2 separate regions of the Homo sapiens genome follow, and region 2 is linked to region 1. A link means that fine-mapping ties the variant in region 1 to the expression of a gene that starts in the linked region. Tissue or cell type: prefrontal cortex. Region 1 holds a variant in brackets; the other region holds the start of a gene. All regions are shown on one strand. Distances are between the middles of the regions.

Region 1 (5,154 bases):
TGGAGATAAAATTTCTGATTAGATGTCTATATTTCTGTCTCTTCTGGTTTAAGAAAATCTCATTTTAGGAAATAACTCAATCAACATAACTTTTACCTCCTGCTTAGCATTTTTTATCCCCTTTCCCCTTGTCCTGTACTGATGGCATCTGGGTTCAGGACAGGAACCCCAGGCCCTAGGGGTCACACGCAAAGGAAAGCCTGGGATTCCTCTGCTGGATTTTGGATTTTTGCTGCCCCCTACTGTAAGGGGGACTGAACTGACCAAGTTCTTGGTCTAGGGTCCACTGATGAAATTTGTGGCCAGTTAACTTGTATTCTGTTCCCATGGCCTGGGCCAGCCCACTGATCCTCCTGGCTCACCCAAGCTCACTTTAGCTCTGACTGGAGCTGGAGATACGAAGGAAATAATGTATACAGTGGTCCATTTCCAAGATAAAGTGCCTTAAATTGTCTTAGGTCAGCAAACTACAGAAAACACAGGATATACTAGGCCCCTGCTTGGATAGCCAACATCTGCTTGTAGCCCCTGCCCCCTGTTTAGTTGCCCTCACCCAAACCAAAGAAGTTTAGTCTAAGATGAAAGTTTACTAGCCTGCAAAATAGCTCACTTTGTCTGTTCTTATCAGCCTGCCCAACTACTTAGGTCATAAGTCAAATACTTAAAGAGCCCCTGAGCTGACTAGGATTGCAATGCATTGTAGGCTGCAACAAAATGCTGCAAGACAACACCTAAAGCCCCAACCCAACAAGTGATAGGTGATGTCTGGGAAGATTGTGACCCCATAGTACTTAGCCTATGAAGAGTCCGGGAGAGGGACCTGTGCACTAGGGGATAAATTGCTTGTTGTAACTGTGCTAGGTGTGCCTGCCCATCAGACAAGCTGTCTTGCAAGACCATCATTAAAAGTTTCACTTTAGCTGTTCTCTGGGTCTCTGAGTCCATTCTTTGGGATTGGATGGGTGAGTTTCTTTCTCACAACCTGGTAACCCGTATGGGGAACTCTGTGCCTGCATGGAGTGGGACTCCAGCTGAGAGGGGAGATACATCCCACCTGATTTAGGTGGCCTGCTCTGTCTGGGTGTCCTGGCTCCCCACAAAAGCAGAAGACAAACCTGAGACTGTTATTCAGGAGACAGTGGAAGTGACACAGGGAGAAAAGCAGGCACCATGGCAACTAGGCAAACTTGTGCATGAGCCAAGGTAGGAAAATTGGACTATAAGTACTGCCTTGGTGGTTAGGCATTTTCAGAGGTTGAGTGTGTGTGACTAAGATGTACCTTAGATACAAAGCGAGTGCAGAGTCCCAATTGTCCCATGAGGAAACAGCTGGAGACAAACGAAGCAATTCTTGAGGTGTCGAAGAAACTTCCAGTGTGGGGGCTGAGTACACAGGAAAAAGCTCAGACACAGAGACTAACCAAAAACGGGAAATAAGAATTCTAGGCTTAGGAAACAAAGGAAAAAGGAAACTAAAGAGACCCCCCTCTAAAATTCCCCCAGATAATCCATTGGGGAAAATGCTGCAGGTTTGGAGGGATAACCCTCGAACCAGGGACAAGGAAAAGCAAAAGATAATAAATATTGCTGTTTTATCTGGCCCAAAGAGCCCGTTAATCAGCCTCAGTCTTTTGGCCTAAGTTTGGCTCAGATGAGGACTGGGTGTGCCAAACTTAATTCTCTATGTAAATACCAAAACTCCAACCTCACAAGAGGAGGTGGGTTATGCTTTTTGTTGGATTAGTGAATTAACCCCCATGATCCCCCTTAAAGAAAAAAAAAGAGCATAATAAAGGGCCTTTGCCCAGTGAAATCCCTGGCATCCCCTAACATGCTTTCCCCCTGCCCCATACATCTCACAAAGTAGAGGACAGGGAGATCAGGAGGCAACAGGAAGGCAAGAGGAAGAGGAATCTGGGGGTCATAAAGGAGCTAAACCCAATGCTCTCTTAAATCCTTATCCAAATTTAAGGAAAAAAATTAGAACAATGTTTTAAAAAATTTGAGAATTTACCTATTCCTTCTAAACAGCAGGTGTCTAACATGTACCCTCTTAGAGACTTCCCTATGGGACAGGAAGAAGTTGGATTTGTGGGTGTGCCTCTAACAAGTACTGAGGTTAGGAATTTTAAAAAGGAAATAAGG[C/T]CACCATAAAAAAATCCCCTAGATTTAGCAGAGCAGGTAGTTCAATTTTTAGGACCAATTTTTATACTTGGGCTGAAATGATGTCAATTGTAAATATTCTGTTTGCTGGGAAAGGGAGGAAGAGAAAAAATAAGAAGGTAAATTGGAAAGAGAAAGGGGAGGAAACAGCAAAGGTAGAGGACCAGAGAGAGACAGAAAGAGGAAGAAACTGAGTGTAAGGGAGAAAGGAAACAGGGGATGACAGAGAAAGCAATAGAAAAAGGAAATAAGTGAGAGAGAGACAGGAAAAGACAGATCAAAGACACAGATGGTGAGACTGGGGAGAAAGATAATGTAAAAGGAAGAACAAGTATAAAAGAAAGAAAGAGAAAGAGAGAGAGGCCATAAAGGACAGGAGACAGAGACAAAAGTGCAAGTAAGCAGTAGCGGCCACAGCTCTGCTGGTAGAGGAAATTCAAAAGTTGACCTTCAGCGGGGCCCTGGTAGTAAGCACCCCACATCAGGTCTGGAATGTATTAAACCAAAAAGCTGGAAGATGGTTAACTAATTCCCAGATTTTAAAATATAAATTCATATTACTACTACTACTAATAATAATAATAATAATAATTTGGTCTTAACAATAGATAAATCCAATAGATTTAACAATAGATACTTGCTTGAATCCAGCCAGTTTCTTATAGAAAGGAGACGAGAATGAGGAGGCATCAAACCGTAACTGTTTAAATATCATAGACTATCAAACTAAAGTTAAACCAGACCTTAGAGAAACTCCAGTACATGATGGGACAAGGCTGTTTGTGAATGGGTCATCCCAAGTAATACACAGCAAAAGACATAATGGCTATGCTGTCATTGATAGAAACAAACAATCCTTATGTGAAAAAGGTAAACCAATAACTGGTCAACCCAAACCTGTGAATTATATGCTCTTAACCAGGTCCTAAACCTCCTAGAAGGTCAAAAATGCACTATATATACTAATTCCAAATATGCCTATAGAGTAGTACACATCTTTGGAAAGATCTGGACAAAGTGGGGCCTAATAAATAGCGCTGGGAAAAAATTAGTACATGGGGAACTGGTCAAACAAGTTTTAAAAAGCCTCTTGCTTCCAGTAGCCATAGTTCACGTAAATGACCATCAGAAAGGAAACACTATAGAAGCTATAAAGAATGGGCTTGCAGATAAAGCTGCTAAGCAAGCCTCCCTGAAGAAAGAAGTTAGACTGTGTAGCCTAATACCAGATATCCCTAATGTGGTATTAAGACCCCAGTTTTCTAAAGAGGAGGAGAAAGAGCTGGGTAAGATAGGGGCCACTCAAACTGGGGATGGAAGGTGAGTGCTCCCTGACAGGAGAGTAATAATAAGCAAATCCATAATTAGAGAACCGATGTCATACTGCATAAGGGAAGTCATTGGGGAAAGTCTTGTGTAATGCAATACACAAGAATTATGGGTGTATAGAGATTTATACACTTGCTAAACAAGTGTGTGAGGGTTGTGTGACCTGCCAGAGAATAAACAAAAAGGTAGTTAAAAAAAAAAAAAAAAAAAAACGACTACTGGAAGAAGACCTCCTAGGTTAAGGCCATTTCAAAGCACTCAAGTAAATTTTACAGAAATGCCCAAAATAGAGAGACTAAAGTATCTGCTGGTAATAGTAGACCACCTCTCCAGCTGGGTGAAGGCCTTCCCCCTCCCAACTGCCACAGCCAGGAATGTGGTCAAAATAATCTTAAAACAAATTATACCCAGATTTGGCCTGGTAAAAAAAAATATTAATTCTGATAATGGAAGCCACTTTAACTCAAGGGTGCTAAGGAGAATTATGGAAGGTTTGCACATTAGATGGGATTACCACACCCCTTGGCATCCCCCCTCCTCTGGAAAGGTAGAGAAAATAAATCAAACTCTCAAAAAGCACGTTACCAAACTAATCTTAAAAACTAAAATGCTTTGGACCAAATGTCTCCCAATGATACTCCTTGGGATTAGGACAACCCCAAGAAAAGACTTAGGATTGTCCCCCTCTGAGTTATTGTATGGACTCTCATATTTAAACAAGGCTACAAAGCTTCCTACTATGGAAACCAAAGACCAATTTTTAAAAAATCATATACTGGCCATATCCTCTACCCTGTCATCTCTTAGGTTAAAAGGACTTCTGACTCAAACTCCACCCCTGAGTTCACGGTTCACCACTTCCAGCCTGGCTACTTGGTGCTGATTAAAACTTGGAAGGAAGACAAGCTCCACCCAAGCTGGGAAGGTCCCTGTCAAGTGCTCCTGACCACCGAAAAAGCCATGGAAACAGCTGAACGAGGGCGGACTCATTACACTTGGGTCAAGGGACCAGTAAAAAAAAAATGTAAGGAAGGGTAAAAGGGAAAAGGGCAAATGGGAAGTGTATAAATCGCCTAAGGAACCCTTAAAGCTAACTCTAAGGAAAACCTAGAAGAGAGCTATAAGCGGGCCCTGTCATTGGGGATGGTTATGGTTAGGATTAATCCTAACACAAAGGGTAAAAGGAAACCCGAGTATTGAATGGAGCCCAGTACTAGGGGTGGAAAGTAGGGAACATCCAATCAAACTAATAGTCAACATAACTCAGACTTTCACCCCGCAAGCTGTAAAATTTAATGCCTGCCAAGTTTTACCTTGAAGGACTTTAGGACACCAAAGACAGTTGTCACAGGCAAACAAATATCTATGACCTAAAACAAACCATTATTGGGCCCTCTCAGAAAAGCCCTACACTAGCTGAAATCAGTCTGGTAGACCAGTTAATACCAAGGCTGAGTAAGTCATTCTTCCAAAAACAAAGCCTTAAGGGGTAAAATACATTTATATAAGGGCCCCACACAACCTAACTGTGAAAATTTAAAATCCAATCATATATTAATCACAATAAACAACCCAGCTACTCTAGACCAGGAACCTTGGAAGTATGGATTAGGAGTAAATATCTCAGGAAGGGACCTCGTGGGATGGTTAGCTCTCAGGCTA
Region 2 (5,154 bases), 160 kb after region 1:
AAGTACCTCACCACCTATTTTGTTCCAGCTAATGTGTTTATTTTAATGCAGCCTAATATCACATTATCTTTTTGGCTATGGCATCACTCTGCCACTGCCACAATATTGCTTTTTTTACTCATGTCTTCTACCCTATCCTTGTAAAGTGTAATTTGGAACTGGAGTCAGAATTTTACTTTTTCAATAATATTCATTTATCAGATTTGAGCCATTGGTGCAACATGATAAAATCTTCTTGAATCCTCAGTCTATCCTAAAAATATTTGCCATCTATCCAAATTTTCACCTAAGTTATTGATAAAATACAATGAGCACAACATGGTCAGGAAAAAAGTCCTAGAGCAGACCACTAAACAATACCCTCCATATTGACATAATTCTGCAAGATTTGGGGTCTTTTGGCCCCAAAGAAGGTCATATCCAAGATTGCCTCATTCTTGACACTCTCTCAATGCTACCTTCTTCACTCACTCATAGTCCATGGTCTAGTCTTTCTGCTGATCCTGCAATGATTTCCACAGTTAAGTTCACCCAGACATAGGTACTTTGAGAGAAATCACTGTTTAAAACATTAAAAATATAAATAAGGTTAACAAAAAAAGGATAAAAGTTCACACCCAGAACAATATGCCATGGTGGAAATAATGTGGGAGTTGGAGTCTGAATAACCTCAGATTAAATCCTAGTTCTGTAACTTACTTGCTTGGTGACCTTGGGTGCCTTATCAGTATCAGTTCCCTCATCTCTAAAATAGAGGAATAATAATGACCTCAAAGGGTTGTCCTGATGATTAAAATTAATACACGCAAAATCTTAGCACATTCCTAGCACATAATGGGTATACAATATAGATTACTATCATTATTACATCATGGTAGAGACAAAAATGCAATAACTACTGGCATAAAAAAATTAGACCCAAGAAGAAAAAAGGAGAAAATGAATATCTGTGTTCTACAGATGTTAACCAATACTCCACAAAAGAAAGAATCAATGGTCTAATAAGGTTAAGAACGAGGACATTAAACACAGTTTTAAAAACTCGGGCATATTTTTATCTCTTTGACTCTGAACAAGATTGGCACACCCTTGCATCCCTTATTTGATCATGTCCCAGGCATTGCTGTAGGGCCCAAGGACACAAAGGATGACTCAGACCCAGTCAATGCTAGGGTGAGAAGAAACACAGGATTCAAGGCACCAGGGGGCAGGGGGCACACATATAAATAAGTAATTAATATAAAATATCACCAGTGCTATTGAGAGGTAAATACAGAGTATGTGAGGGAACACTGATAAATCTGGAGATGTCAGGTAAGGCTTTATGCAGGAGGTGGTAATTTTGAAGAATCTTAAAAGATAAAGAGAAGTTAAGGATGAGGGTCTCTCAAGTCAAGGTAGTGGAGGATAGCACGCAAAGATTTTGAACAGTAGTGGACCAATATGGGCTCGTCCAAGAAATATTGCTCATTCTAGAGTGACTTTTCCATGAGATACAGGTAATAAGAGGGACAATTGAAAAGATACAGATTCATGCCTATTGTAAAGGGGCTTGTACGTCAGGTAAAAAAGTCTGAAATTCTGCAGGCAAGAAGAAACCAGCACAGCGAATGACATAAGATGGTAAGCCAGCTTAATAGTAGAGAGAGAGGCTAGTTACGACACTTTTTTTTCTTTACCAATACCCAATTGAAAGATGGTCAGGTCCAGAACTAAAATTATAGCACTGGAGGTAGAGAATAGGCCTACATAACAAAATCTAAGCCTGAGTATAATTGATACGATGTGACATGAGCATGAGGGGTTAAGGAAAAGGAGAAATGAAAATGACTTTGTCTAGCTTGAGACACCCAGTGTGTGGGGGCATCATTACCAATATATGGGCTTCTGGAGGATAGTACATTTTGGTAGGAGGCACAATGTAAGTTCAGTTTTCAACACTATGGATTGAGATAACCATGGGACATCCATATGGAGATGCAATCTGCTCAACATAACAGTGTGTATATCATAAGACAGACCAGGGATAGGAGTCCCCTGTATATTTATGGCAATAAAAGAAAATTCATGGTTTAAGAAGGAAGAGTATGTGGAACATGTCTCTGATGCCACGATGTAATAACCTTGAAAACAAAGTAAAATTACACTAATGAGTCTTGCCTAATTAAACTCATGCTCCTAGTGATCACCACTTCTAGTTCAATTGTTCACATTCTTGCTCTGCTTTGAAAAATTAAAATTAAATTTGCCTATCCTCTACTGACCATAATTTCTAGAAGACGGCATTCATCTCATGGCAAGTTCTTCAGTACCCAAAGATGGAATACATAGATTAAAAAAGAACATATATGTAGATGCTTGTGATGTTTTCCTATCATAAATTGAATTTCAAGTTCTTATAAACGTATTAATATGTCCTACTCTTCTAGAGACAAGGATCAGGAAGTGTATTTATCAATAGATATTTACCAAGCACCTGTCAAGCCAAAGTGGGGTTACAGAAAAGTAGGTATGGGCCCTGCACACAAACAACCTGTATTAGCCAAAGGGACCCTTCCATAAAATTTCCAATATGTAAACCCAAATTTGGAACTTGCTGAAACAAGTACAGATGAGTACGTGAGGAAGCTGGGAAGTAAACACAGGTTGCTGGAGAAATAGAGGTGGAGATATGGGTGGATCTAGGTTTGGTTAGGAATGAATCAGACCATCCCACAGAGGGTGGCTCCTCCCTGCATGGGGCCTGCTATAAAAGGGCCATTATCTCAGCCTTCAGTACCCAGCAGGCTCCTTCAGGCTACATTCTATTTGCTCTTTTGGTGAACAAGGTAAGAAGGAATACATTTAATTTTGTCTACTTACTATTAACCAAGGTGGAAATCTGAATGTATGTGTACTGTAAGGCAAAAGGTTCTGGAAGTTTAGGGTTTTTCTCTTTCTTTTTAGTGGCACTGTCACTAAAAGGTTTATTTCTATATAGAAGGAAAATGAGGGCATAAATTTGCTTTCCATGGAGCTACTCAATACTCTGTATTGTTAGATTGTCCATTTATTCATTTACTTAACAAATATGTATTAACTACCTTCTACTTGGTCTTGGCTCTATCTATGCAGCAGTGAACTATATAAACTCCTAGCAGCTTACCTTTAATAGGGGGAAACATTTAGTAAACAACAATAAACAAATAAGATAATTTTAAATAGTGATAAGAACAATGAAGAAAATAAAAGAGTGATGTAGTAGAGCAGGGGTGTCCCGTCTTTTGGCTTCCCTGGGTCATAATGGAAAAAGAATTGTCTTGGGCCACACATAAAACACACTGACACTAATAATAGCTGATAAGCTTAAAAAAAAACTCGTAATGTTTTAAGAAAGTTTACAAATTTGTGTTGGGCCACATTCAAAGCTGTCCTGGGCCACAGATTGGACAAGCTTGTAGTAAAGTGATGGGAGGGAGGAGGAAAGTGCTTTAAATTAGATGGCCAGGGGAAGACCTCTCTAGGGAATTATCTTTGAGTTGAGATCTTAAACACAAAAGAAACTAGCCAAGGCAAAGGGCAAGATTCTAAGCAAGAGTAAACTTGTCCCAAAGAGCAAAAAGAAGCTAGTGTGCCTTAGAGCATACATAGTTAAAAAGAGGACCAGTGGTATATGGTGATGTCAGAGAGCTAGACAGCGTAGCTCATGTAAAGAGGGGCACAGTAGAATTAAAACAGTACATGTTAGATTTTAGCATGTACTTAAAGGGGTATTAAGCAGGAGGAGTAAGATAATCTATGTTTTTAAAAGACCACTCTGGGCTGCTACGTGGAAAACAGGAATATAGGAAGGCAAGAGCAGGAGCAGGGAGAGACTGCATTCTTTTATGTGAAAGATGATGGAAATAATAGAAATAACGAGAAATAACTGTTTGCTCATACCAAAATCTAGAAGTTATCCATGATTCCTGTTTTCTCATCACACTGATTCATCACCACGTCCAGTCAACTCTGCCTACAAACCTGCCAAATCTATCCATTTATCCCCCTCTCTGCCATTATCATCCTAGTCCAGTCTACCTTCATCTCCCAACACTGACTATTATGTTATCTGAAAATATAACAATTTATTCATCCATTTGTCTATGGGTAGATACTTGGGTCTCTTCCATTTTGGGGGGTATTATAAATAATAGGGCTATGCACTTTTTTGTGTACTACTTTTGGTTACACATATGTACATATTTCAGTTGGGAATATTCCTAAGAGTAAATCGCTAGGACTTAGATACTGTCAAACAATTTTCCAAAGTGCTTCTGTCACTTTATGTGCCTCCAGCAGTACATAAAAAAAAAAAAAATCTCAATTCTCCACATTCTCACCAATATTTGGTATTGTCAAGGATTTTTTTCTTTCTTATCTTTTTAGTCACTTTGGTGGGTGTATTGAGGTCTCACACGTTATTTCAATTTGCATTTCCCTAGTGCATAACAAGGTTGAGAAGTTTTGATATGTTTATTGGCCATTTGGATATCCTTTTCTGTAACGTTCCTAAGGTATTCATTTTTCCATTGAGTTAACTGTATTTTTTATTGATTTATAGAAGCTATTTTTATATTCAGGACAGATTCCTTTATTGGTTAAATGTGTTTTGTATATCCTCCCACTGTGTGGCTTGTACATCTCTCTTCTAATGCTATCTTTAAAAGAATAAACATTCCTACTTTTAATGCAGTACAATTTATCAGTCTTTTTCTTATTAATTAGTACTTTTTGAATTTTATTTAAGTATTTCCCCACCCCGAGGTCCTGAAGATATTCTCCAATGTTATCTTCGTTTATCTCTTACATGTAAAATCAACCTGGAAACTATTTTTTTTCCATTTGAAAATTCAATTAACCCAGCACCATTTATTCAAGACTATTCTTTCTCTACTGACCTACACTACCATCTTTGCCATTAACCAAATGTCCAGAGTGATATAAGACTGACTTTATACTATTATCTTTTATCATTCCATTTGTTTAGCCTTGCATCATGCCATATTTTCTTCCTTTATAACACACCTTGCTATCTGGTATGTCTTCCAACTTAGTCTTCTTAAAGATGGTCTTACCTAATCTTAGCCCTCTACATTTTCATATAAATTTTAGAAATCACCTTATTAATCTTTA

What was found. PIP is the estimated chance that this variant, and not a neighbour inherited with it, causes the effect. A credible set is the group of variants that fine-mapping cannot tell apart.
Region 2: FLG starts here. The variant in region 1 is the best candidate, but not a certain one, in a credible set for the expression of FLG in prefrontal cortex (GTEx, PIP 0.60).

Annotation. Positions count from the first base shown.
Region 1 is chr1:152,481,688-152,486,841 of GRCh38, reverse strand. No RefSeq gene overlaps it. Among named protein-coding and RNA genes, the nearest start is that of LCE5A, 27 kb to the left of the region's middle. The variant C/T (reference allele first, on the strand shown) is at 2,146.
Region 2 is chr1:152,322,863-152,328,016 of GRCh38, reverse strand. It overlaps FLG (filaggrin), which reads left to right and starts at 2,778. Exons shown (of 3, transcript NM_002016.2): 1 at 2,778-2,828. All of the region lies in intron 3 of CCDST (cervical cancer associated DHX9 suppressive transcript), which reads right to left.